7 separate regions of the Homo sapiens genome follow, and regions 2, 3, 4, 5, 6 and 7 are each reported to be linked to region 1. Evidence: microRNA targets listed by miRTarBase, many of them from high-throughput screens and not tested one by one. Region 1 holds a microRNA gene; each other region holds the end of a gene's coding sequence.

Region 1 (4,098 bases):
GAGCGTGAGCAAGCTAAATATAGCTAGGTATTAGGTCAGTATGATGAAAAATGTAATGATGGAGCTTTACAAAAACTGAATGGGCTAGCTAAAAACATAGCGACTCCTGTACTAGCAGTTCAGTAAAGTCTGCAGGGCAACACGCCAGCTACACTAAATGAGGTCTGCCTAGGAAGCAGTGGAAAAAAAATTTTGTGAACTCCTAAGGGTTATTCCTTTAAACTCTAAGATGCTATGGCTGGACTTTTTTTAGAGTAATTATATTTGTCTATTTCATGTTATGGTAGGAATTTGCCCTAAGGAAGTAGAACTAGTTTAGCTCAGAATGGCAATATTTCTTCTAAAACTTATTAGGAAACTAGAAGGAACGCTTTGTGGATGTAGTTTTCCTAAAGGTCATGCAGAACTTCCAGGTATTACAGATTTTGAAAGATGAATAATAGCCATTTTAGTGGTTATCTTTTTTTTTTTTTAATAGATGGAGTTGTCCAGGCTGGAGGGCAGTGGCATGATCTTGGCTTACTGCAACCTCCGCCTCCTGGGTTCAAGTGATTCTCCTGCTTCAGCCTCCTGAGTAGCTGGGATTACAGGCCCCTGCACCACACCCAGCTAATTTTTGTATTTTTAGTAGAGACGGGATTTCGCCATCTTGGCCAGGCTACTCTTGATCTCCTGACCTCAGGTGATCCACCCGCCTTGGCCTCCCAAAGAGCTGGGATTACAAGCATGAGCCGTCGTGCCCAGCTCATATCATTCTCAAAGGACTTTTGTAGCACACAGAATGGTTTCTAAATAATATTATCCATATCTTGACTAACACGGTGAAACCCCATCTCTACTAAAAATCCAAAAAATTAGCCGGGCGCGGTGGCGGGCGCCTGTAATCCCAGCTACTCAGGAGGCTGAGGCAGGAGAACGGCGAGAACCCGGGGGGCGGAGCTTGCAGTGAGCCGAGATAGCGCCACTGCAGTCCGGCCTGGGCGAAAGAGCGAGTACTCCGTCTCAAAAAATAATAATAATAATAATATCATCCATAATATTAGTTGATAGTCTCTTCATAATTCTAAATCCAGCATTTTTCAAAGCATTACCAATGAAGGAGAACTTTTAAGATGAAGCTAAATATAAAAAAAAAGTGAATTACTGCAAATTACTATACATAGTATAATTTGAAATTTTGGTAATATTGTCTAAGACAAATCATCCTTTTGGGATAGTTTTTTTCCATACTGTTCAAACTACCCTTCATCCTATAACGGCAGACATGGCCTAATGATTCTCATTTTTAATCAACAGTGTTGTCAGACATTTCAATGATTCTGAACATAATGTTATGACATTCAGGGCCAGAGAGCAAGCATTCTCTACTTGCTCTCAGCTGAAAGCAAAGAGGTTCTCAAGAGCTGCCAGCCTTTCTCCTTTATGCTCTGAAAGCCTCCTAAACTTGTCAGTTTACTTCCATTACCCTTTTATTGAAAACAATGAAAGAAAAAAAGTTACTACGGTGTTTATACTTTTAAAGTGAATGTCTTTTGTAATAAGGTAGAAATATCACAGAACCATCGAATGTTGGAATCAGAAGCATGTTTGGCATATCATCAAGTACAATAGCCACATCCTGCCTATGTGGAAAGCTGGAGGGGCTAAAGGACCTCTCAAAGCTACACATGTAGAGTCAGCAGCAGAGCAGAGCTTAAAGCAGCAAGTGACTCTTACGGCCATCAGTAATCACACTCTTGCTTAACATGCAAATGAATAAAGCTATTTTTATAAAATCCCTCCCCCCCCCATATATTGGCAGTAACTCTAAATTCTAGTCATTTTTTAACCATTACAGAATAAGATTAGAAGCATCAGTAGTTAATGGTGATAATAATTTCCATTTTATATGGGGTTTTATGGTTCACAAATATATTTTATAAAATAAGTTTCTAACATTTCATTTTCTTATATTGAGGGCTTTTAAAAGAAATAACCAAAACCTATTTTATTAAAATTTGATATTTAAAATTATAGTTGAGAATAGTGGAAGATTTTTCCCATTATCTTTGCTCTCCTGGATAGCAACCAGATAAATGACTTCCCAGAGAAATGCATAGAGTCATATAAGATAAAACGTCTTTTTTTCTCCATTTTACTCAGAGTTTGATGATGAACTATGACTGGATATTGAAATAATCATTCTTTTATCCTTTGTAGTAAGGCTTACTTTGTCCAGTGGCAACATGATCAGACAAGCAGCTCTCAGATGACATGTGACAATATTAAATTCAATCTTAGCAAGCAGCTTCTCAATTTCACACTTGTGGTAGCTGGATTAACCCAATTATTTTTTGGAGGTTAAGGGAAACTTTCACATTTGCAGAATACCATCCTTCAGAAACCGGAATGTAGGATTTTGTTATCTCAAAGAATTTTATGGAGATGGAAAGATCAGTTAGTATTAAATTTTAGCACACAATCAGATGAAGGGTTTAGGAAGAAGTAGATATGATTACCTAATAATTCACTTTGAGTTCTTCACTTTGAGCCTCAAAAATGTGTGAAACTTGGGACTTTTACTAAGCATATCTTTCAGGCAAAATATTTTCATTGTACCAGTTCCAAGCTCTTGGTTCTAACACAAAACCCCTGCTACACATACACACACATGCACTCACACACACACAGGCTACCTATATATACACCTGCTATGTGTGTGGATATGTATTTACACATACACATATCAGGTGTATACATACGTAGCATGTATATATACACATACACACACACGCACACAGGCACACACATACTTGTTACCTATATATGTATACATGCACATATCAGGTGTATGTAAATGTAACATGTATATGTACACACACGCACACAGGCACACACATACTTGTTACCTATATATGTATACATGCACATATCAGGTGTATGTAAATGTAACATGTATATGTACACACACGCACACAGGCACACACATACTTGTTACATATATAATTACACATGCACATATCAGGTGTATGTAAATGTAACATTTATATATACACACGCGCACACAGGCACACACATACTTGCTACATATATATACAGTCAGGTGCTGCATGATGACATTTTGCTCAAGAACAAATCACATACATGAGGGTGGTTCCATAGATTATAGTGGAGCTGAAAAACTCTAGTGGCATTGTTCTCATTGTGACATTAGTGCAATTACTTAATTTTTAAAACAAATTTAGTGTAACCTAAGTGTACAGTGTTTATAAAGCCTACAGTAATGCATAGTAACGTCTTAGGCCTTCACATTTGCTCACTGCTCATTCACAGATCCACCCAGAGCAACTTCTACTCCCACAAGTTCCATGAAAAGTGCCCTATACAGGGGTGGCAATTTTTTTTAATCTTTTATATCATATTTCGCTGTACCTTTTCTGTGTTTAGATATGTTTAGATATACAAATACCACTGCATTGTAATTGCCTACAGTGTTCAGTACAATAACATGCTATGCAGGTTTGTAGCTTAGAAGTAATAAGCTATACGACATAACCTAGTTGTTTAGGAGGCTACACAATGTGTTTGTGTTATGTGCACTCTATGATGTTCTCTCAACAATGAAGTCACCTAATGATGCATTTCTCAGAAAGCATCTCCATTATTAAATGGCACATGAACGTATTTGCTACATATATACATACTGGCTATAAACACACACACACACACACACACACTCACACACACCTGCTACAGTCCTTTCAAAGTATAAAAAAAGATACCAAAATGTGTTAGAGATTCGTTTGTAAAATGTAACTATTTTCGGACCAGATGGATTCACAGCCGAATTCTACCAGAGGTACAAGGAGGAACTGGTACCATTCCTTCTGAAACTATTCCAATCAATAGAAAAAGAGGGAAACCTCCCTAACTCATTTTATGAGGCCAGCATCATCCTGATACCAAAGCCAGGCAGAGACACAACCAAAAAAGAGAATTTTAGACCAATATCCTTGATGAACATTGATGCAAAAATCCTCAATAAAATACTGGCAACCCGAATCCAGCAGCACATCAAAAAGCTTATCCACCATGATCAAGTGGGCTTCATCCCTGGGA
Region 2 (4,000 bases), not on the chromosome of region 1:
CTTATCTTACAAACAACCCTTAATATTTTAAAAGCTGCAGAAAAAACAAATACATGAATAAATGAATAAACAAAAAACACATAGGGAAAGGGTATGAGCTCTTGCTGCAAGGAGTAGATGAAAGACTGATAAATGAAGCTGAGGTCCCCCCAGTGCTTCCCTTTCAATAGTTTATGCTAAAAATATTTGTTTTTTAAAACTCTGCGCTTTCTTCATTTTTATTGGAACGCAATTTGTGAACCACAACTGAGTCTGTATGCAGGATCTCCAGAACGCAAATCAGAAAAAAATTTGAGATTTTATTCAGATTTTTCTATTAGATTGAGCCACTAATGTTCGGTAAGGGGCACTTGATGGTTAAAAAACACAACTGGCATGATAAAACTACACTAAATAATATCTACTTTATTTGAACAGTCATATCAAGAATGGCCCTAAATTTAATCAAGGACTAAATTTAATGAAAGACTCTGACATTAAAGACTCTGGATTGTTTGAAGGTATTTTGCCTGCAGGTGAGACTGGTTTTGAGGGCACAGAAACGTAGCCTGAATGAACCATTCAGAACTCATCATGCATCCAACTGAACACGTTTCATGCTTACTCAATTTTTTTTTTTTAAATGCAACAGGCTCAGTTTTCTCACATTGGTGCATCTCTTCATGCTAGAACTGCTTATGTCTACAGAGTCCCTGAAGAAGCAAAAATCCTTTTTTTAGCATTAAACATAGCATATGGAGTTCTTCCTCAGCTCTTGGCCTATCGTTGTATCTACAAACCAGAGTTCTTCATAAAAACAAAGGCAGAAGAAAAAGTGGAATAAAAATATTACTTCATGTTCCTCCTTTCTAAATTACTAACTTTTGTTATACTGGTACTGATATTTTGTCCCATTTCACTCTCTTCTCATACGTGAGTACTTAAGAATATGTACATTCTTGCTCTGCACTGTATGTGTGAGCTATATGGTATTGTGTAAATTTTTTTTGAAGGAAAATGGAAATTCTTGAGAAACAGTTTGTTTAAAGAAATATATTCAAAATCATTTGTGAATAAACTTGATCATCCATCTCAATATTGTTTGACATATAAAATAATTATAAGTGTAAAAAATTACAATTTAGTGCCAACAGTAGTGAGCATGAAATGAAACTATTCAAAAGAGAATATGGCCTGTGCATATTAAAAAATTCAAAACAGTGAATGCAGACTGGAGGAGTAACTTTTGCAAATAAGATGAATATGCTTCATTATTAAACTCAATATAAAAGGCAAATCATCAGAATATTTTTAAATGTTGTTTGAAAAATGTTTTCCCAAGGAAAGTTTATTATTTGCTGCTGTTTCAAGAAAATTACTTTTACTAAATTTTTTTGTGTGAATTTAAACAGCTAAATAGGGATCAGTAACTTTATCTCTATCCTTAATGAACATTTGTTTTATTGGTGGCTGGAAATATTTCTATTGTATTTCTGTGTATATTTTTAATAAAATTATTTTTGGCCTCTTATAAAGACAAATCTTATTAAATTTGAAACATTTCATATATACACATAAAACGCTTTTAAAGAAAATTTGTGAGTTGTATATTCCAATTCAAAATGCCATCTACATTCCCCTTATGTTTCAGTGTGAGCAATGAAGAGGTCTTTTGATGAATTAAATTTCATTAATTAAAAAATACATTCAAATATTCAAAATTAAAAAGGACCTTTTAAGGAAGAAGTATTAGATCGACATCCCTACTATCTTTTTATGAACTTTTCATGTTTGGGATTGTATGTTGAGTATACTAGAGAAAATCAGTATTCACTAAATGAAAGAAACACACCAAAAATACAAACAGCCACCTCCTCACTGTGCCCTGGAATGATAAATGGACTGGTGCTTTCATACCCTTAGCTGCCATCATCACCATCATCATTATTAACGGCCCTAGGCTTTTAGGTCTGCTCACATTTTCTCATGTTTTTATTAGCTCTCATCAAGAAAACCAAAAGAAAATGGGATACAAATCAATGCATGGATAATATCAAATTACAAAATCTAGGGTCCACTGGGCTGGTAAATATGTAAGTGTAAGCAAATCATGTAGTCATCTCCCCATCATCCCCTACAGTGTTTTCAAATAATCTAAAACCCAGAGAGTGTTTAAAAAAAAAAAAAGAAAGAAAAAGAAAAACCCTCACCTGCACTTGATTCTATTGTCAGCTTGCTGTGAACAATTTTTGCTTTAATATATGAATTACATTAATACCTCACGTTACATATATGAAGCCAAATTACACTAACTTAGTTTGCTTACAACCTCAAATCTTACTCCCAGTACACATTCCAATAAATTTATTCTGTAAAAACAATACATTTTTTTGTTTTTGATTTTTTTACAGTAAACTTTTCAACTACAAACCGTGAATACGCGAAAGATGTTCCAAGGACAAGCATTAACAGGATTGATAAAACCCAAACTGACTAAATGTGTTCTCACAATATAAGCTGGCATAAAAATAAATAAAATTCTCTATTATCACAATAGCAACAATAATGTACACATAATAATGGTTTAAGGATGAATATTAACTATTCTAATTGTAGTTCCAAAAGAAAACAGTTTATTTTAAAAGTCTACATTTAAAAGTCAATGCTTTGTCTGGTTTCCCATAGGGCTGTTGCTGATTCCAGCTTTAAAATGTAAAGTATCCACCTTGAGTGCTTAGCTCAAAATTGTATTGGCACTGGGAAAAAAATAAATCATTGCCTTTATTTTGGAGTAACACAAAAAGACTCACTAACTTCACATATAGAAACTTAGTTTGTGTACATAACAATATGAATTTTGAGAAGTATAAGCTGTCAACTAGCTATTTCTAATACGGAATAGATATTTTACAATATGGTTAAACTTTACACATGGCCTCAAAACTGAAGGACAATTTTAATTTCGTCTTCAATATACCAACGTTATGTATTTAGGAATTAATTCCTGGGTTCTGTCACAGAGAGGAAATTCCATTCTTAAGCATTATGTTGAGTGGTCATCTAAAAAATGTTAATTTATATTTAACTGAGTGTTTGATGATGGTGGGGTCAAGGCAGGAAAACGATGATCATAACTGCCTTGATAAAAGGATCCTAGACATGTATAAGTCTGCGCAAAAATCTTGATAATCCTTAGTGGTTAAGGGCAACTTCATGCAACCAAATAACATGAAATTAAATCAGTAACTTTTAAAAAAGGCTAAAATGTCTTTTCCCCCCGAAACACAACAGAGAGGAATATGAATAATGTACATACAAACTGGGGTTCTGTCAATGACAACAAGGACTATGTGTTGGTTCATATCAAATCCAAGAATATTAGACAACCAAACATATAACCTTCTTGTGGTTTCTCTTAATATGCAGCATTCATTATGGTAGTTAGGTCTGTAAAAAAAAAAAAAAGAAAGAAAACAAGCCTTTAGATGATTTAGGATACTAACAATGAGAGCTATCCACACCTAGATAGTACATAATTGGGTTTTCTGAAATTTTAATATGCACTGCAGCATTAACAATACTTACTGAGCAAGAGCAGCTTCTGTGGCTTTGCTTTAGACCTGTCAGTGCAAAAAGTTAAAGGAAATCCTAGGGTATTTTTAGTGTCCCATAGAAAAAAATTATAAACCTTGTCTACTGTCTGTTAGGACAGAGTGCAGCAGTGCACATTCTACAATTCTAGGACTATGTTTATTGCTGGAATACATCATCAGTGGAGAAATTGATATAATCTATCTTTGTGAGGACATTCTTCAGAAAGAAAGGTAAGCTGTGTAAAATTTAAAAAGCACTTAGAGTGTGCACCAATTAATCTTCAGAATATTTATAACTTAATTACTTGTGACACATAGCTCAAACAAATGTAGAAGTTAATCATGATGTACAAAGTCTCTGACTTCTTGCTTTTAAAAAAAACATAAAGAATAAGAGGAAGCCTAGATTTCTTTTAAAATTTAGATGG
Region 3 (4,098 bases), not on the chromosome of region 1:
CCTTAAAATGTCTCCCTCATCCTCTTGATTGAGAAAGGCTGATCCTCACCACGTCCATGTTCTAGCTAGGGGAAAGGGAGAGAAAGAGGAAGGCAGAGGGCATATGCTTCTTTCCCAGAGCATGACCAAGAGGTTACACATATCACTTCCCTTTACATCTCATTAGCCAGAACTTTGTCTCATGGCCTCACCTAGCTGCAAGGGAAGCTGAGAAATGCAGTCTTTTTTCTGGGTGGCTATATGCCCTGCTAAAATAAGGGGGAAAATAGATATAGGGTCAATTAGCAATCTGCCACATGGAGTTGTTCTACCTGGGGTCTTTACCTTGAGCATTTGGAACTCTGCAGACTGATGTTCTTGGATGGGAATAGGATGACTCCATTGTGTTTCTCTGTTGCAGATGAACCCGAATGGCCCAGCCTGGTGCTGGTGGATGTTAGCAGTTCTTCCCTTGGAAAGCCGAGCTCAGCTCCCCTTCCTAGCAATGAGGTCCTTAAAGGACAGACTGAATGGTATTCGACGAGTCCTGGCCTTCATATCCCGAAACCAAAACTAGTGAGTGGATTGCCGAAGAGGAGCTCCCACCTTCCCCACTGCCGTCGGGGGGAGTCTTCTTGTAAATATATCTAATTGCAATAATATCTTAACAGAAGGGGGTGTCAAACAGAGGCATCAGCCTGCTGTTGATCACAGAGAGAAATTGAGTAGAAAGACCAAAAGAATGTGACCTATTTGAAACTTTCTGTCTTAAGATGCTTCTTGACATGCTGCATAACTACATAAACAGCAGAGGTGTTTAAGAGCCCAGAAAAACATAATTTGATTTTAACATTAAAATTTCCAAAAGTTTAAAGTGGTTTTGCTTTAATATTCTTTCTTTCATAGATCAATGACTGTGTGGTTGAAATGTGAAAACAAAGATACTAATAATGTTGCTGTATAATTTCACTGACTTGAGGTCTCATTCCAAATGGTTCAGGTTTTATAGAGCATTGTGTAAAATAATGTTCATACTTCTTTCTGTTTTAATAATTTATTTTTTGCACTACTGTATCCTTTTTTCTACATGTATGTTTGTAACTATTTAAGCGTACATTGCTGAAAAGTCCATTGCTTTATTTATTGATGTGGTTTACCATGTACCTAGGGGGAAATAACAATACTAGAAGTGTGCAGTTTTTGCTTTTATCTTTTTTTTACTACAATGACACTAGTTCTTAGACCATTTCCGTATCTATCCAAATGGATGCTTAAAAGAAGTTCAGAATGATGCTAAGATCATCTGTCTTCAGAGTCCACTTTTTTTTTTCAGTTTGAACTAAACAATATAAAATACTTAAGGGATTTGGCCTAGATTATGGTATATGCCAAGGTAAAGTAAAATAATTCATTTTCTGTGTGTAATACAGAACAAAGCTGAAAGAATTATTTTTATTATAGGCATTTACTTCAGCAATCTAATTGTACGTGTATCTAATTTTTCCCCAGTGCAGTTAGGAATCGGATTTTGGGCAGGATCATAATTAACTCTTCAGAGGAAATGGTGTTCAGTTTAGCACATCACAGTCATGCCCAACTAGCCTCCATAACCCACCTCTCCCCGGGGTTCTGAGGATCAAGACCTGGACAGAAACACTTGATAAGGACTTTTTATTATTAAAATGTAAATAAGACAAATAGAGTAGAACCCTATAAAAATCTTTTTAAAGGAACCAGATGGCCGGGCACGGTGGCTCACGCCTGTAATCCCAGCACTTTGGGAGGCCGAGGCAGGCGGATCACTTGAGGTCAGGAGTTCGAGAGCAGCCTAACTAACATGATGAAACCCTGTCTCTACTAAAAATGGATACAAAATTAGCCAGGCTTGGTGGTGTATGCCTGTAATCCCAGCTACTTGGGAGGCTGAGGCAGGAGAATCACATGAACCTGGGAGATGGAGGTTGCAGTGAGCCGAGATTGCACCACTGCACTCCAGCCTGGGCAACGAGCAAACCTGCGTCTCAAAAAAAAAAAAAAAAAAAAAAAAAGGGAACCAGATAATCTATTATTTTACCTAAGTACTGCCTTTGCTTCTAGTTGCATGGGTGAAATATTTCAATGTATGGGGAGAATATAGGGTGAGGAGTAAGAGTAAGCCCTGATTTAGCTTGCTTAGTGCTAGTTTGAGTCCTTCAGTGGCAGGACAGCCTGTAAAGTACCACAAGTATGGGAGTGTTATAATGGCAGAGTGAAACGATTAGAGCAGGGAGGAAGTGAATTGTGCCATTAGTACCTTCATGCAAATTATACCATGTGATTTTGGACAGTGAATGATTTTTGCATCATTCATTCACAGCCCATCACTCTGTTAAGGTGAGAGTGTAATTCTTACTTCTCCCATCACCACCTGTAGCTAGAAACAGGAAAGGGAGAATGAGATGATCCAGACAACATAAAAAAGATGCATGTAAGCAGAAACCAGATGGTCTTTTCTGCACTCACTTAATGGACATTATGTTGCCAGAGTGTTGTGTTTATCAGATTTGATGTTTGGAGCTAGTCTGGGCAGGTGAAGAACAGAAATAGGCGGAAGTATAGGCATTATTTCTGCGCAAGCAAACTCCACAAAGCTCAGGGAGCAGAAAAGACTCCCCCTCCCACCTGGTTCCCAGACCATGTGGTCATAACACAATCCTAATAGTTTCTGGTTATCTAGTGTAAATGCAACAAAGAAAAAGGCCCTAAGCTTCTCTACTTATTAGATATATTATTTTTGGCAATTGATTTAACTTTTGCCAACCCTCAGTTTTCTAATCTATGAAATGATAGTGATAAGTTCTGCATATAGGGTTGTTACGAAAATTAAATGAGATAATGTGTAAATCAATTAGCACAGTGTCTCACACCTAGAATGCACTCAAGAAATAATAGCTACTATTAGATTAGTCATAGTTATAGAATATCATCAAGGGCCTACATTTGTATAAAACACTGCCTTTACACACAATATCCACTTGAAACCCCTTTAAACTTAGTTGGGGGAATACATACCACTGATTTTTGGACCCATAATTTGATGATTTACAGATAATTCTTTTGGGAATTAAATGTGTGTGAAAGTGAAATAACTGGAGAACAAATGAGGGTCAGAGATAGGGATCAATCCTATACCAGAAATTTTTTTCCTGCTTCAATAAGGGCTAGAAGGTAGTGCCCTATGTAGGTCTAGGATTTCTTTCTTCCTTCCTTCCTTCCTTTCTTTTTCTTTTGTTCCCTCCCTCCCTCCCTCTCTCTCTCTTTCCCTCCCTTCCTTCCTTCCTTTCTTTTTCCTTTCCTTTCCTTTCCTTTCTTTCTTTTGTGTGTGTGTGTGTGTGTGCGAGTCTGAGTCTCACTCTGTCACCCAGGCTGGAGTGCAGTGGCTCGATCTCAGTTCACTGCAACCTCCGCCTCCCAGGTTCAAGTGATTCCCTTGTCTCAGCCCCCCAAGTAGCTGGGATTACAGGCACGCACCACCACGCCTGGCTAATTTTTGTAGTTTTAGTAGAGATGGGGTTTCACCATGTTGGTCAAGCTAGTCTCGAACTCCTGACCTCAGGTGATCCATCTGCCTGGGCCTCCCAAAGTGCTGGGATTACGGGCGTGGGTGTGAGCCACCGCACCCAGCCTAGGATTTCTGATAGAATGGAAGCCTTAAGTTCTAGCTCCATTAGAATAACCAACTTTTCACTCCCTGTTCTCCAAAATGTATTGAGAACCTTACCCATCCCAGATGATGAGAGTTTACAATCTGTGACTTCTGTTCTTAGTTGATAGTATTTCTTTATGTTGCCCAAAGTAACAGATTCAACAAAAAATGTACTGAGATCCCCATGTACCAGGTACTGAGCCAAGTGATCTCACATACCTGAGCTCATTACATCATTTATTTCTCATACCAACCCTGCGAGAGCAGTTATTATCCCCATATTATGAATGAGAAAACTGAGCCTCCACTATGTTAAATATTTTGTCTAGTTGCAAGGCAGGATGCAAGGCTAAGCTTTGGCTTTCTTTGGGATGTACCTTAACGAGGTAATCAATTGGTCTTGAACATTTTTACACTGGGAAATTGGTTTTGCT
Region 4 (4,000 bases), not on the chromosome of region 1:
CAGCCTGGGTGACAGAGCAAGACCTTGACTCTTATAAAAAAAAAAAAAAAGGATTGTGAAATTTTCATCAATTCTCAGCAAATTAAAACAATTGATTGAATGTTTTAAATGTCACTTAAAAAAAACTAAGTGCATGGAAAAATCAACTTCAGTATCTTTAGAAGAAAAAAGTGGACTTAGGAAATCAGATGAAAAGGGGATGGTGAGAAATCAGTGCAAACAGTGGAAACTTTGCTTCCAAGGAGACAAAAAATACACAGTGGAAGTCGAAACAGACTTTTATTTTAAAAAGTATTCTTGATAATGTGTTCAAAGACTGCCCTGGCTACAGCCCAGGACTGGCAGTAAATACAACCAGCTTTGGGGAGGAATCTCCCTCTGGGGAATGTGGAATCACAGATGCTGACAGCCCAAAGGAGGCACTGGAAACAGGTGAGTGAAACTCCTGGGGAGAATCTTAGCTGAGGAATTAGCTAGGGAAACTCCCTAAGCATGAAGGTTTCTATGGCAGATCAGGATCACTTACCCTTTCAAGCACTCAGGTTTTGTTTGCAGGCAAATTGTTTACACAATCAGAGGACTCAGTTGCCAGGAAACAGTCAATGTCCCCAGCTCATTAGTCTGATGGCAAATAAATCTACCAATATCAAGGCACCGGGCCTGGTCCCTGAGCCAAGATCAAGTCCAATTGATGCTGTGGATAATTTCCTACGTGGCTTTTTTTTTTTTTTTGAGACAGAGTCTCGTTCTGCTGCCCAAGCTGGAATGCGTACAATCTCGGCTCACTGCAACCTCCACCTCCCAGATTCAAGCGAGTGCCTCAGCCTCCTGAGTAGCTGAGATTATAGGCGCTCACCACCACACCCAGCTATTTTTTTTTTTTTTAGTAGAGACAGGGTTTCACCATGTTGCCCAGGTTGGTCACAAATCCTGGCCTCAAGTGATCGGCCCGCCTAGGCCTCCCAAAGTGCTGGGATTACAGGCGTGAGCCACCGCGCCCAGCTGGCTTCTTCCTTTTCAAAGGCCTCCCTCATCTTGTCAGTCATTTCCTTGCTGACTTCAGTCTGTTCATATTCCCCTTCTATTTGCTTTCTGAAGACATCCAGGGTTTGAACAGGAGAGTCTTAGCCACTAGGAGAAAGGTGATGTGTGCTAAATTTTGCTTTCAGGATCATGGAACTTTGAAGCCGTGAGGGAGGAACTTTCTGTTCCCCTGAAGTTTCTGAACTGCTTCTGCAAGTGTGGTCTGGGAACGGTAACATCATTATCTGGGAGTCTGTTGGAAATGCAAATTCCTGGGTCCCAACTAGAACTACTGAATCAGAATCTGTTGGGAGGAGGGTCCAGCAATCTGTTTTGAAAAGCCCTGCAGCTGATTCTGATGCTTGCCAACATGCAGGAAGCACTGGACTATACCATCTTGTTATTAGACAACTATGCAGGAAAATAGCTGTGTTATCAGACTGTATTCAAAGGCCCTGAAACCTAAATATTTGCTGATTCTGATGCTTGCTAAAGTGCAAGAAGCACTGGGCTATACCATCTTGTTATTAGACAACTATGCAGGAAAATAGCTATGTTATCAGGGCCTGTATTCAAAGGCCCTGAAGCTTAAATATTTTAAAATATTTCTTACAGCTGGACATGGCAGCTCACACCTATATTCCCAGCACTTTGGGAGGCCAAGGTGGAAGGATCACTTGAACCCAGGAGTTGAAGACAAGCCTGGGCAACATATCAAGACCCTCTTTTAAAAAAAAAAAAAAAAAAAAAAAGCCAGGCACGGAGGCTCTCATGCCTATAATCCCAGCACTTTGGGAGGCCACGGCAGGCAGATCATGAGGTCAGGAGTTCAAGACCAGCCTGGTCAACATGGTGAAACCCTGTCTCTACTAAAAATACAAACATTAGCTGGGCATGGTGCTATGTGCCTGGTAATCCCAGCTACTGAGGGGGCTGAGGCAGGAGAATGGCTTGAACTCAGGAGGCAGAGGTTGCAGTGAGCCGAGATTGTGCCACTGCACTCCAGCCTGAGTGACAGAGCAAGACTCTGTCTCAAAAACAAACAAACAAACAAAAAACCCACAAAAAACAGCCGGGCACGGTGGCTCACACCTGTAATCCCAGAACTTTGGGAGGCCGAGGCGGGCGGATCACCTGAGGTCGGGAGTTTGAGACCAGCCTGACCAACATGGAAAAACCCCGTCTCTACTAAAAAAATACAAAATTAGTGGGGCGTGATGGTGCATGCCTGTAATACCAGCTACTCAGGAGGCTGAGGCAGGAGAATTGCTTGAACCTGGGAGGCAGAGGTTGTGGTAAGCCGAGATTGCACTATTACACTCCAGCCTGGGGAACAAGAGTGAAACTCCATCTCAAAAACCAAAACAAAAACTCCACAAAAAAACCAGAAAACTGTAATTCAATAGGTAATGCTGTGTTCCAATAATTTTTTTTTTTTTTTTTGAGACGGAGTCTCGCTCTGTCACCCAGGCTAGAGTGCAGTGGCGCGATCTCGGCTCACTGCAAGCTCTGCCTCCCGGGTTCATGCCATTCTCCTGCCTCAGCCTCCTGAGTAGCTGGGACTACAGGCACCTGCCACCACGCCCGGCTAATTTTTTTTGTATTTTTAGTAGAGAAGGGGTTTCACCGTGTTAGCCAGGATGGTCTCGATCTCCTGACCTCATGATCCACCTGCCTCGGCCTCCCAAAGTGCTGGGATTACAGGCGTGAGCCACCGCGCCCCACCAAGACACATCTTTTAAAAACAGACACATACAGTTAGTGAAGAGACTTAACAAGACCATGATCTTACCATAATATTTTATATTGAATCTAACATGTTACATTTTTTTCCAAATGCTTTTCTTGCCTAACAAAAATGGGGGTGTAACCCCATCACAAGAAAAGACCCATACAGGTGAAACCCCATCTCTACTAAAATACAAAAAATTAGCTGGGAGTGGTGGCGTGCACCTGTAGTCCCAGCTACTCGAGAGGCTGAGGCAGGGGAATCGGTTGAACCTGGGAGGCGGAGGTTGCACTGAGCTGAGATTGCGCCACTGCACTCAAACCTGGCAACAGAGCGAGACTCCATCTCAAAAAAAAAAGAAAAAAAGAAAAAAGAAGACCCATACAATTCTGATGTCCCTGTGCTAATTTTATGCATGGGATGCTATACTTGCCCTAGTTCATTAATTTCCCAAGGAAATTAGCACTTATAACCCACTCCTCTGATTTTACCAAAACAACAAAGAATTATACACACACACACATACACACACACAGTCATGTACATTTACATTTAAAACATTTTATGAGGGATAAAATATAGTCTTTTTCTATCAGTATGTTCACACTTCCTGGCCTCTCATTGGGAAGCTGTAAGATGTCCTTCAATAAGATCCTGAACACGCGACAGAATAATCTCATTAGAGCTGCTGCAATTTTCTGGACCATATGGTGGGTCTATAGTCAGGACCCCAGCCACACAGAGAGTCCTTGGAGCGTCTCCCTGTTCAGTGATGGGGATGTGGTTCTTCTCAAGCCATTTCTTTAGGCTGTTCTTTCTCTCTTCCAGATCCTCTGGGCTGTATGCTTTGCAGTCTCCAGACGTGAACAAATGCATCAGCTTCTCCCTCACTCTATGGTCCCCTTCATTCATAGTTTCAACAGTCTGCACAGCATGTCCCATAATTCCGGTCACAGACATGCTGCCATCTTCAAGGAAGTTCACAAGGACAATACTTTGGAGGAAAAGTAAGTTTAGAGGCATCATCAACCCAAGTAGGTCACTAAAATAATAGATGACACTCTACTCTGTTTGAAATTAATCCTGTCACCAATGAATGCTTCCATTTATTCAACAAACATTCACTAAGGATCCTAAATAGGTAAACTTTTTGCCCAGCCTACAGCCAATCATTGTGGGATACAGTTAAAGGATTAAACAAGTTATGAATGCCTTAAATGTGTATTAGAAAAGAAGGCAGGGTAGCCA
Region 5 (4,098 bases), not on the chromosome of region 1:
GTGACAAAGGACACCCCACCAGTCCCACTTAAAAACAGCTAACATTTCCTCATCATTTTGACTATTAAACAAGTAAATGTCCATGTTTTTCTTAATATGTGTACTTTGCTCAAATGTATATTATAGGATGGGTTTCATCAACTAAAAAGTAAAAACTGGGTACGTGTAACACCCTTTTAAAATTAATTTGTTTAAAAATTATTTTTCAAAAGCTTCATTAGCATTTAAAGTTTTTGGTTCTTGGGCAGGTCACTTTTATATATAGATTGCCAGTAGACATGAATTTATTCTAAATGAAACTACCCTTTATCCTCTGAATCTGTAACCTTGACCAATTGAAAAAAGGATGTCAAGGAAATATAACTTGATGTACATTCTTGAAAATATCTCTGCCATCATTTTGCAGTAATGTGCCAATGATGGAAAATGTTTTACACTAATTTCATCAGCACTGATGTACAAAACCAAAACGTTTTCAGTCTGCGTCCTTTTCACACATATTTCAGTTCAAAGCTTCTGCTGTGTGAAAAGCTGACTAGTTTTCAAACCTTTTCAGAAATTGCAAACTAAATATACTGAATATTAATCTACATCTCCCTTTAATACATTAGCTACAGTCTAGAGTTTGACACTGGGAGTCCAACTTGTATTTCAACAAGGGGGGTTTAAATTATTAAAGGGCTCTATTATGTAGCAGCTATTTTGAGTCTAAATCCATGGTTAGTGCTCTAAAAAAGATCCAAGACTGTCTAAACTCTACATCAATTACTGCTTTCCTATACTTTCTGCAGTTCGTAGTGACTGTATTGTCTTTGTATACAGAACATTTCGTTTTCTAAAATTTTTTAACTTCTTCAGAATACCTTCAGAGTGTATTTCAGTGATCATAAACTCTTTGAGGGACTGAATCTGAACTCCAAGCAGCAAAACCGTTTTTGCACTGCTCAAAATTTAATAATCAATAATCTATCTGCCTAATAATGTTTTATCAACCGCTTGGATTACATTCTTGGTAGATGACCTATAGTTAATTGATTTAATCAAAATATAAGGTGAGAAGGGGTACATTCACTATCAAGTTGACGAACACTTATTCAAGTTTGGTAAATATCAGGCAGCACAGCACAAGTGGTCTCCAAACCTAAATGGAATACTCAGTCTTTGAGATGGTAAGAATTACCTTAGGCTTTCTATAGTAGAAGAGTAAAAATAACTCCTTATTTCACATTAGGCATCCTGTTAAAATTATCTACCCATTTAATACTACTTCTGATCACTTGGCTTAACTGAGGAATAGAATAGGTGGAAGAAGGAGCTGGTGTGTCCAGAGGTAGAGACAGGGCACATGGGAGAGTTTCCACACAATAGTGGCTTTACCCAGCTGCAGGACTAAAACGGTAGTGAGACTGGGTGGCAGGAAAGGGCACTTGTATATTCAAACCACTTACCTTGCACTAGTAGAAATCTTTATATTGCTTGCCTGTTTTAGATGGTTTAAAAGGTTAATTCTTAGCTGACTTGCAAATAAATAAAACAAACCTAGCTGGAAAGGAGACTGTTAAGTAAATGTAGCTCCTTACACAGCCCTGCTTTACTGTCTGTGAATGTAAGCCCTTCCCTCCCTTCCAGTGGAACACTGTCTCAAAATAAAAATCACAACTTACTTGGAACCACATGCTATTGGTGCATCCTATTTTTAGGTTGCTTTCATTATTTTATTTTTTATACAGATACATACACATTGCTAGAATCAAAGCAAAAATATTAATGGGCAGGTACTACAGAACTAAAGTGAAACAAAACAAAACAACGAACAACTGAAAAACAATAGCTATAAACTTTCAAGGCCAAAAGATAAGATTTAAGGGCAATACCTGTTGAAGAAGGAAAAGGAGTATAAAGTTCCTAGAGAGGTATTTATAATGCAAATCTAATGCCAGCTTTTTAGTAATAAAAAAGAGAAGTGCTTTACTATACACTGACTAGCACATAATACTTAATTTGGAAAGAAAAATTAATGACGTTCCTTGGGCCAGCAGCAGATATGGTGTGTCCATTGCCGGCAACAGACACAACACCGGAACAGAAAAACCCAAATCCCAGGGCTAAAGTATTCACAGAAGTAATGGTTGAAGGTTTCAGGATTTAACAGGCTAGGTTTAATCACAAGTGCTACACTCTGTACAATGTTATGGCTCTGCCTGAAATTTTACAGCTATAACAGAAACTAAATAAGACAAAGTTCATATTTTAGTGTCAATTACATGTTAGGTATTTAGTTAGTTACAAACCCTTTTTTCTTGAAACAAAGGGCTTTTCTTTAAAGTGTTGAGATGTTTGAAATGGATGTCATGCCTATTAATTACATCGGCAGTTCTCATTCAACTCTATGTTGGTTGTATGACTATTAATGAATTTTAATAGAAGTCTAATGGCCAAAGGCCAAAACTACATTCAAACTCTGCTAATATATCCAGGCAGATAGGAAATTCCAACACACACACACACGCACACGCACACACACAAACACACACACACGCTAAAACTCAAACTAAAAACCTCCCAAAGGAACTGCTTTGTTTGTAGACTTCAATTTGAAGTAGATACTAAGGGCAAGAATAGACCAGTTAAAATTCACCTGAAAATCTCTTCCCAGTCTTCAAATGTGCTAAAATATCACTGTCAGCTTAGCATCTCTTCATGTATGTTATATATAGATGTATTTTTTTCAAAATGATATTTCAGATATTTAAACATCAAGTGGCCAGAAGACAAGAGTTATACTATTGGCAAAGTTTACAGTCCACCCAGGCCTTAAGAAAGACCACATTCATTTCACTAATAACTCTCCATCAGACACAATATATTTGAGGCCACCTTATTACCACTGCATAAAGCTTATTTAAAAAAATTTGTTGCTAGCACAGTCTGGTTGGCAAAGCTTCATTATACATTTTACTGTACAAATGCTTTTCAGATGATTTTATTTTTTTTTAAACAAGAAACTCTGCTATAACAAAAATTTAGGTTAATTATGATGGTACTTTCACTGTCTCTTCTTTATTAAGTGTGGTTATCTCCAATAGTAAACAAGTTCATTTCACAAAGGCTGTTACTAAATGACTTATGTATGATGTTATCTACAATTCTCAAACTGTAACAGTACAGACTTGAACTTTTAAATTGTCTGTAAATCATCATCTATGCCATGAATGTTTAAATATAATATATATTTAATATGAAAAAGCTAAAGCACAAGTGCTTTCACCCACCCCTAAATTCTGTTTTGGGCCCTCACAGATTCGGAATGCATTTTCATCCACCCTTTTTCACAAAGTCAGGAGAGCTCAGGAAATATAAAGTCAAAAATATACAAATCTTTGTTGTTATTATAATAAGATTTTTTTCCATGAATGAAATTACCAAGGACCATGAACCTGGAAAAAGAAAATCAAAAGGAATTTACAGCAATTATTTATCTTCAAAGTTCAGAACTGGTCACTTCACAGAAAGACTTCAGGATTTGTTGAAATTTTTCTTCTAAAAGTCATTCTGTAGTGGAGTTTTCTAGGAAAAATTAAACAGCTTTTAATAACTGGCCCGCTGGTGTGAGAGCTACCGTGGAATAAATTAGCACAAAAATGGAAAAAAAGTCTTATAACTGTTCACTGTTACAGACATAATCAACAAGGTCAGTCACTCTCAAAAGCTCATCTTCCTCCTCTTCTGGTGCTCCTGCCTCCTGCCCACCACTTGTCCCATTGGAGGCTAGGCTTGCACTGGCTGTGCTGTTGTCCTTGGGGGTCTGAGACTTCTCAGTAGGCTTGCCAATCAAGTTCTCAATGGCTTTGCCAGGGCTCTGTCCATTGGTTGAAGGTAAGTCCACTAAGCTATAGTCCAATGGGCTCCCCACTTTGCCTACATTTTCAAAGTCCTCTTCCTCATCACTTTCTATCCGGTAGGGCTTCTTGGTGCTCTCTTGTTCTGAGGGCAGGACCCTAGGCTGGCTGTCACGGGCAGGCTGATTTGCATCTCCATGAGCATTGTCACAACTCTCCTCCTCATCCGTCTCAATCCGGTGTAGCCGTTTGCGGGATG
Region 6 (4,098 bases), not on the chromosome of region 1:
CATAACCATAAAAAAAACCGAGCTAACCATAAAGGAAAACTATTATTTGAAGATATTAAAATTAAAATGTTACTATATTTATAAACATTGTGAAAAGACAAACCACAAAGTGGGAAAAGATTCTGCAACACAACTCATAAAGGAGTAGTAGCCAGAATATATAAAGAACCACCTGCAAATTCATGAGAAAAATGGGAGAACTTTAACACACTTCATTCACCAAAGATGAAATCCAAATGGTCAAAAAATATATGAAATGTGATCAGCCTCATGAACACCTTTCATATTTTTTTTCCATATAAGGAAAATGGTCATTTAAACTACAATATGATACCATTATACATCTACCAGACTGGGGGGCTGGGGAAAAGCCAATACACCCTGGGAAGAATGTAAATCAGTATGAGAATCTTCGGGAAACAGTTGGCATGATCTAGGTTCCACTCTTATGTATATGTCCTTTTAAAGATGCAAACTCCAGAAGACATGTTCAAAATATCCATAGAAGCACTGTTTGAAATATCCCCAAAGTGGAAAAAATCCAAATTGTCCATCAAGAGTAAAATGAAAAAAGTATATGTAATGTAATACATTCATACAATGGAATAAACACACTATGGCTACATACAATGATAAGGATGAATCTCATAATGCTTAGCAAAAGAAACCAGTCTCAAAAGTGTACAGTATAATTTGATTCATATAAATTCCAAAAATAGAAACTAAATATGGTCTTTAGAGACATATACATGGGTGGTAAAACTATGAAGAAAAGCAAAGCAAAGAGTAGGGATGATGTTAAAGTGGACAGAGGGTTGTGTTAGGGAGGGACATATATGGAGCTTTTGAGGTACTGGAGATGTTCTATTTCTTGACCCGGTGGTCATATGGTATGCACATTATGATATGTTAAAAAATATATATGTATGTGTGTACATATCTGTTGTGGACATGCATACATATGTTTCATGTACTTTGTCCATATTCCACAATAAGAAAATATACAAATGACCAGTAAATATGAAAAGACATTCAATCTCACTAGTAATTAGAAAAATAAAATAACCATGATCAGCTATCATGATTTGCTGAAAATGTAAAAGACTGATAATATCCCTCTTTGCTGAGGTTGCAAAGAAATAGGCATTCTCATATGCTGTCAAAGGAAAGTAAATTAATAACTCTTTTTGAAGAACAATGTGGCAATATGTATAAAAACATAAAGCTTGTCTTAAAAGTTTTCAATTGCAATTCCAAATATCTATCCTAATGAAATTCACATGCACTAAAGATATGTGTACAAAGATGTCTGCCATTCACTACAGCATTGTTTGCAGTAGTGAAAAAAATGAATAAATATCAATAAGGGAAGATTTATGAAAAGTATTATAACCCATACAATGAAATACTATGCAGCCATTAAAAATAAAACTTTATAAACTGACATGGAAAGATATCCAAAACACATTAAGTGAACAAAAGCAAGACACAGAATAACACACACATAACATAATCCTGTTTCTAAAATATAAATATGTACATATATTTCTATAGAGTTATGAAAAACAGACTACATATTCATGCTGTAACCTGTTAGCAGTGATTACCTCTGGGCCAGGAAGTGGTGGAGGTAGAAGGAGGGTAAGCGGGACACTTTCCCATCTCACTCTAGATACATACATAGGATTCTTTTGTAATCACATATCCATGGACTACTTATATATTTCTAACAAGTGGTAGTAGCAAAACAACTGTATTATTATTTGTTCCACTCCCATGAGACCAATCTAATACATTTGAAAATAACTTGCTTTCAAAGCTAATTCTTTTGTTCCTGGAGGGCCTCCAGGGAGCCTACAGTTGCAGTCACAGGGCTGTCAGCCATCAATCGAGGAGCACTGTGCAGGATACTAAGTAACTTGGTCTGTCTCCAGGCTCGCCTCTTGAAAATATTTGCATACATTCTCATATCCCAGCTTACTGGCAGTAGCAATAATGTCTTCCCAGAGCACTTTGGTAAGGTAAATAAATTCTGATACTGCACATCAAATCACATCCATATCAAAGTGTAGATGTGGCTGTCAAGATCTATGTTTAGATCCAAATTAGTAATCACGCCCTTGATGAGTGACTTTTAGAACAGTTTGCATTTGGATTCCAAAGTAAGAACCTAGACCCCACTAAATCACCATATAGAGCTTTTCTTCTCTTTCTTCTTCCCTCCCTTCACTCTGCGCTAGCCCTTTCTAAAACTAATTTTTCTGTTTTCTATAAAGGTGGAAGAAAGGGCGAACCCGATCATGAGTTATTTGCAATCAGTAGTCAATCAGAACAAAAAGTATTATCAGTATATTTACAAAGAAAAATCCAACTACATGTATACATTTTGGTGTGCATTTTATTTTTGACTGGAATCATATCCATATGAAGGGAAATTGTGAAAGTATCCTTTACTCTTTTGAAAGCTTGGCCTTTGCCTTACTGTGTCAAAGGAAAGCAAAACTAAGCCAGTAATGATGGAGATGTCCCTGTTTCCATATGCACACTGACAGGCGAGGAGCTGCCTAGGAAATGCTTTTTGATTGATGAACAGAGGAGGGTCTACACACATTAAATACAAATGGAAACACATCAGCACACACAAGTCATTAGCCTGGTCCTCTGGCATCCACTGGCATGCATCTTTCCAAAGTATCACTTATTCAGTGGTAGCAGCACTATGTCTCGTTATGCCTTTTATCAGCAAATACCTTTTTATTCCAGAATGGAAAACAAACTAGGAATTAAATACATCCAATATTGATGCTTTATTTCCATAAGTCACCAATAAGAGAATGAATTTAATTTTAATACATTTATTTTTGTGTGATTCTTAATAAAACACTTTCAAAACATTCTGTACATTTCAAGCCACTCAGAACCGCATTACATTTCTACAAATGTGATTTGTTGGGATGAGGTGCCAAGATGTCTCTGTACAAAGATGTACAATATGTACAATCACTGTAAGTGCAAGCTGTGCAAAGCAGAGTCTAGAACACTAATTCATGCCAAGGCTTACAAAAACATTTCAACACATAAGACTAAAGCTTGAAACAGCGTTGTGGTTTTTTCCCTGGGCAAATGATTATTTTATAAACAAGTATATGTATATGTCATACAGAAAGAAGAGTTTGACTCCTCAGCTCAGTCAGTACCATGCAGCTGACTGGATACATTACAGGGCTGCTCTCCTAGGCCTCTTTCTTCAAGGCGCCATTTTGCCACACTCAACAGTTGTCTCATCACTGAGTGGCTGCCACTGCTGCCTTTGGCTGAACCACAGCAACACTAGGAGACTTAAATTTCGGGAGATAAAGGCCAAATTTGTTTTCGATGCCTGCAAACGTGGCTGTGGCGAGTCTGTATCCACCGATGTGATCAGGGTTGGCAGGAGGAAGGTCTGCAATGCGTGACTTAGGTGTTGGTTCTGAACCAGCGGGTTTGCTGTTGACAGAAAAAAAGCCAATGGTTAGCATGCTCAAGGTGGATGAGCGCAGCTTACAGCTGGACATTTTCGGTCTGACCCATGTGCCACAAAGAAGAATGTTTCTCTCAACCATTTCCATGGCATCTGTGCTGCATGACTAGAAACCACAGTCATGATTTATAGCTGCTTTGACAGCAACTTATCTACATATTTGATTTACAAGAGAAATGGCCTTATTTCCAATGCTTGCATACATATATAAACAAATCCATAGGAAAAAAGTCAGAAGAAAAGACACTCAAATATGAAGACTCTCTGGGTAGTAAGATTATGGATGATTTTTTTCTTTTTTCTTCTTGTAAAGATGGGGTCTTGCTATGTTGCCAAAGCTGGTTTCGAACTTCTGGTCTAAGGAATCCTTCTGCCTTGGCCTCCCAGAGCACTGGGAGGTGTGAGCCACCACACCCAGGCTGGTTTTTTTCTTTTATGCTTTATGGTTTTCCAAATTTTCTGCACTTAGCACATATGAAAGTAATTTTTAAAGTATATATTTTTCTTTTGACATAACTTTAGAAGTTAACTTTTTATGTAGTAGACTCATAAAGATTATCAATTAAATTATTTAAAGA
Region 7 (4,098 bases), not on the chromosome of region 1:
AAAGTGTGAGAAAATAAATTTCTGTTGTTCAAGCTACCCAGTATTTGGTACTTGGTTATGGCAGCCCCAGCAAACTAATACATTAGGGTTTTTGTTTGTTTGTTTGTTTTTTAAGAAATTGAGGTACAGAGTTGGGTGTGAAGATTTCTGGGGATCAGTGTTGGAAAATCCTATAAGAACACGAGGAAAGGCCAGGCGTGGTGGCTCAAACCTGTAATCCCAGCACTTTGGGAGGCTGTGGTGGATGGATCACTTGAGGTCAGGAGTTCAAGCCCAGCTTAGCCAACATGGCGAAAACCCACCTTTATGAAAAATACAAAAATTAGGTGGGCATGGTGGCACATGCCTGTAATCCCAGCTACTTGGGAGGCTGAGGCTGGAAAATCTCTTGAGCCTGGGAGGCAGAGGATGCAGTGAGCCAAGATCATGCCACTGTCCTCCAGTTTGGGTGACAGAGCGAGACTCAGTCTCAAAAAAAAAAAAAAGAAAGTGAGGAAGGCAGAATTGAGCAGAGTGAGAAGCTGCATTCAGTGAGGTTGCAACCAACGTAGAGTTTTGGAGCTGGGATGCCCTGCCGTTCAGCACTGTTCCAAATTGAGGCAAGGGACCTTTGTTTTCCTACATCAGTCATTCTCAAGGTGAAGGGAGTGTGATTTTGCTCCCAAGGAGGTGTTTGGCTGTCACACTGGGAAGCAGGGGTGATGAGTGCCCACTGCAGCATTCATTAGAGGCCAGAGATGCTGTTTAGCATCTACAATACACAAGACAACCCTGCCCCACAACAAAGAACCATCCAGCTCAAATGTCCATAGTGCTGAGATTGAGAAACTCTGCCTACATCAAGGAGCCACTGGCCACGGGCTGCTCTTGCAAGGGTATGCCCTTGGGCAGATCCCAGCAGCTTAGGGCAATTCCCAGTGTGGCGTGTGGCTGTGAGCAGTCAGCAGCTCATGTTCCCAACAGATTGGAAATGGGTGTGTTTGCCATGGAGAGAGGATCTCAGCAGAGCAGAGTCACTCTCTGGCCCCTCAGACTGCTCTTTCTTATGTTATAAAAATAATGACCTACCATATTTAGGACCTGATATAGTTTGGATATTTGCTTTGCTCAAATCTCAGTGTTGAAATGTAATCCCCCATGTTGGAGGTGGGCCTTGGCAGGAGGTGATTGGATAATGGGGATGGATTTCTCATGAATGGTTTAGCACCGTCCTGTTGATGCTGTCCTCATGATAGTGAGCTCCCATGAGAGCAGGTTGTTTAAAAGTGTGTGGCAAAAAATATAAAAAATAAAAATAAAAAAGCATATAATAGGCCAGGCGCGGTGACTCACGCCTATAATCCCAGCACTTTGGGAGGCTGAGGCAGGCGGATTGCCCGAGCTCAGGAATTCAAGACCAGCCTGGGCAACATGGCAAAACACTGTTTCTACTAGAAATACAAAAAATTAGCTAAGCATGGTGGCACATGCTTGTAGTCCCTGCTACTCGGAGGCTGAGGCACCAGAACCTAGGAGGGGGAGGTTGCAGTGAGCCGAGATCGTGCCACTGCACTCCAGCCTGGGCGACAGAGCAATATTATCTAAATATATATATATATATATATTTAAATATATATATTCAAATGTATATATTTAAATATATATATTCTTTCTATATATAGATAGATATAGATCTCTATCTATAGAGAGAAACAAAAATAAAATAAATAGAAGTCTGTGGCACCTGCCTCAGTCTCTCTTGCTCCTGCTCTAGCCACGTAAGACATGTCTGCTTCTCCTTCGCCTTCTGCCATGATTGAAAGTTTCCTGAGACCTTCCCAGAAGTCAAATAGCTGTCAGCGCCTTGTTTCCTGTACAGCCTACAGGACTCTGAGCCAATAAAACCTCTTTTCTTTATAAATTACCCTGTCTCAAGTATTTCGTTATAGCAATGCAAGAATGACCTAATACAAGACTCTATCCTGTAGGCTTTACATATATTATCTCGTGTAAGCCTCATAAAAATCCCAAGAGGTAGTTTTCATCGCCCCATTTTATAGTATGGGAATCTGAGACTTAGAGAAGGTTAATCACTCACCTAAGATTACTGAGCTTGTCAGTTACAGGACCAGAATTTGAATCCAGGACTGTCAGCCTTCAATCTCTGGCTTTTTTGCAAATAGGAGGGACAACATTTGCTAAAACAAGAGCAACACTCATAGGAGAAGGAGGAGGATGAACTACAAGCTTAGCCTGGAATGAACATAGAGCCCAGGCTCAGAGCAGCACAAAGCCCTGAAACAATGTCTGATACTGTGCGAACATTCTAAGGCCAGACCTGAGCTCAGGATTCCTGGAGAGAAGCCTCCTGCCACCTTCCTATCCACAAATATTAATGGGTTATGAAAAATAAGCCCTCTCACCAGGAGGACTTTTCTTTTTTCCCTCCTCAAGGAGAATATATGGACCTTTAGACTTTATATGGTGACAGTAATTATAAAAAAGGGGAAAAAAAACCACTTTCTGGTAGTCAATTGTATAAAAATAATTTTATTTACTACTGTAAATAAAGTAGTGCAAAGAGTAGTTTGGACCCACAATATTGCATTACTGATTTATTCACTACCTTAGCAGCATGTAGTATACAGACATTCTGCTCTTCCTCTTCCTCTCTAACACACACACACACACACACACACACATATCCCTGTACAGACTCACGCAGGCATGAGGGGTAGGGATGAAACTATAAGCTAGAGGCTTACTTGCTGCATATTCCGTTGCTGCCAGTCTATTCTAACGTGTAATTCATGGAGAAGACTACAGTTAAGTACTAAGAATCTTCTAAATGTAATTTCATGGATTGCAATTGAAATGTAAAAGATATCCGACAATGCCATTAAATGATTCGGAAGCACTAGGACCCTAGAAAAATTCAAGGAGAAAAATGTAAACCAATTTACAAAGCTATTGCCCTCCCTGCATTTCCAGGCACAAACAATTTATTTCAAGGTGCCTTATAACTGCTAGGTCTTGGAAGTCAAAGAGAAATCTATCAATTCAGCTTTGAGGAACAGGGCTGTGGCAAGCACAGGTACCAAAATATTATCCACCTTGTAGAGTAGTCATAATTTTCTGTTCTTCAATAAAGGGATGAAGCACGCACTGTGATTCTTAAGACACATCTTAGTGTATAAGAATCCAGATCTGCCGTAGGGCATGCTATGACTCCTAATACATACAATCACTAGAACAAAAGTCTGTGATGGCCCAGTAAACTTCCCCACATGCCCTATGATCAAGATGTTCCTTGTATGTGTTTGATGACCTTTGGTATTACCACTGCCTGATCTGGGTACTTCCTTGTAATTTGACTTTAAAAAAAATGACACCAATTGCAAAATTTGCATCCAGTTGACAAGACATTTAAGGTGTTTATCAGGATCATGCCCTGGCCCCAGCTTCCCAATACCAGCTGTTGAAAAGATTCTCTCTCATCTGGAGAGAACTGGAGTGCACAGTTCACCCACGTGGCTCCGGGTTATTAGTTACTGTGGGCTGGTCTTGGTCAGAGGCATCTGCAGCTGGAGTCACAGCTGGACTTGCAGTGGACGTGGCAGTGTCTGGGGAGGCCTGGGATGGTCTTGGAGGGGGATCGCTTGCTGCAGAGACACATGCACAACAGGTGCTGAATACTCAAAACAGTGCATTCAGAATGTACAACCACACCTAGAGACTCTGGCAAGCCAGGAGAGATGCATCTAGTCTAATGAACCTGACACTAACTAGCCAGGCAACTCTGGACCCGTTATCTAAGTTTAAGAAGATGCCACCACATGCTGACAATCTGATTTCTAAATAAAAACCCTTCAAGAGTTTCACCTCCAAGTGCCGATGCTCATTCCTAAGGGGACATTCTAGGAAGTTTAAGAATGGGTCCCCAAACTTCTGGCTTTTCTGGATATATGCGGGAATTCTTCGGGCCCCTTCCAGTACCTACAGAAGAGGTCGTGGATTCCAACACTCTTCTGAAAGAATAGGAGAGTGATGGGGAGGGGCAGGATGTTGTAGAATGATGTACCCTTTCTAAGGTCATTAAAGCCACTACTCTGGCAGGTG

What was found. Region 1 holds the annotated microRNA hsa-miR-4789-3p (CACACAUAGCAGGUGUAUAUA, at 2,679-2,699, opposite strand). A microRNA usually pairs through its seed, bases 2 to 8, with sites in the 3' UTR of a target mRNA and lowers its output. Matches are read on the target gene's strand: a 7mer-m8 pairs with bases 2 to 8, a 7mer-A1 pairs with bases 2 to 7 and ends in A, and an 8mer does both.
Region 2: the mRNA of HDGFL3 is a reported target of hsa-miR-4789-3p. Seed matches in the 3' UTR shown: 7mer-A1 at 2,906-2,912, 8mer at 2,548-2,555, 7mer-A1 at 2,327-2,333, 8mer at 1,549-1,556 and 7mer-m8 at 77-83.
Region 3: miRTarBase lists LONRF3 as a target of hsa-miR-4789-3p. The part of its 3' UTR that is shown has no 7-base or 8-base seed match.
Region 4: miRTarBase lists GEMIN6 as a target of hsa-miR-4789-3p. Seed matches in the 3' UTR shown: 7mer-m8 at 3,271-3,277 and 7mer-m8 at 2,772-2,778.
Region 5: the mRNA of RSF1 is a reported target of hsa-miR-4789-3p. Seed matches in the 3' UTR shown: 7mer-A1 at 1,736-1,742 and 7mer-m8 at 494-500.
Region 6: miRTarBase lists SLC25A12 as a target of hsa-miR-4789-3p. Seed matches in the 3' UTR shown: 7mer-m8 at 3,074-3,080 and 7mer-m8 at 1,501-1,507.
Region 7: the mRNA of SEL1L3 is a reported target of hsa-miR-4789-3p. Seed matches in the 3' UTR shown: 7mer-m8 at 2,677-2,683.

The regions. Positions count from the first base shown.
Region 1 is chr3:175,368,191-175,372,288 of GRCh38, reverse strand. It overlaps MIR4789 (microRNA 4789), which reads right to left and starts at 2,749; the gene lies at 2,668-2,749. The region is part of intron 5 of NAALADL2 (N-acetylated alpha-linked acidic dipeptidase like 2); the gene reads right to left.
Region 2 is chr15:83,135,850-83,139,849 of GRCh38, forward strand. HDGFL3 (HDGF like 3) reads right to left here. Exons shown (of 6, transcript NM_016073.4): 6 at 1-3,426. The coding sequence ends at 3,421. It overlaps TM6SF1 (transmembrane 6 superfamily member 1), which reads left to right. Exons shown (of 10, transcript NM_023003.5): 10 at 632-1,559. The coding sequence ends at 823. Among named protein-coding and RNA genes, the nearest start is that of TM6SF1, 30 kb to the left of the region's middle.
Region 3 is chrX:119,017,135-119,021,232 of GRCh38, forward strand. LONRF3 (LON peptidase N-terminal domain and ring finger 3) reads left to right here. Exons shown (of 11, transcript NM_001031855.3): 11 at 401-1,221. The coding sequence ends at 556. Among named protein-coding and RNA genes, the nearest start is that of LONRF3, 45 kb to the left of the region's middle.
Region 4 is chr2:38,781,263-38,785,262 of GRCh38, reverse strand. GEMIN6 (gem nuclear organelle associated protein 6) reads right to left here. Exons shown (of 3, transcript NM_024775.10): 3 at 261-3,746. The coding sequence ends at 3,371. Among named protein-coding and RNA genes, the nearest start is that of GEMIN6, 5.1 kb to the right of the region's middle.
Region 5 is chr11:77,663,262-77,667,359 of GRCh38, forward strand. It overlaps RSF1 (remodeling and spacing factor 1), which reads right to left. Exons shown (of 16, transcript NM_016578.4): 16 at 1-4,098. The coding sequence ends at 3,656. Among named protein-coding and RNA genes, the nearest start is that of CLNS1A, 28 kb to the left of the region's middle.
Region 6 is chr2:171,781,990-171,786,087 of GRCh38, forward strand. SLC25A12 (solute carrier family 25 member 12) reads right to left here. Exons shown (of 18, transcript NM_003705.5): 18 at 1,416-3,486. The coding sequence ends at 3,285. Among named protein-coding and RNA genes, the nearest start is that of DYNC1I2, 97 kb to the left of the region's middle.
Region 7 is chr4:25,744,924-25,749,021 of GRCh38, forward strand. It overlaps SEL1L3 (SEL1L family member 3), which reads right to left. Exons shown (of 24, transcript NM_015187.5): 24 at 2,510-3,641. The coding sequence ends at 3,502. Among named protein-coding and RNA genes, the nearest start is that of SLC34A2, 91 kb to the left of the region's middle.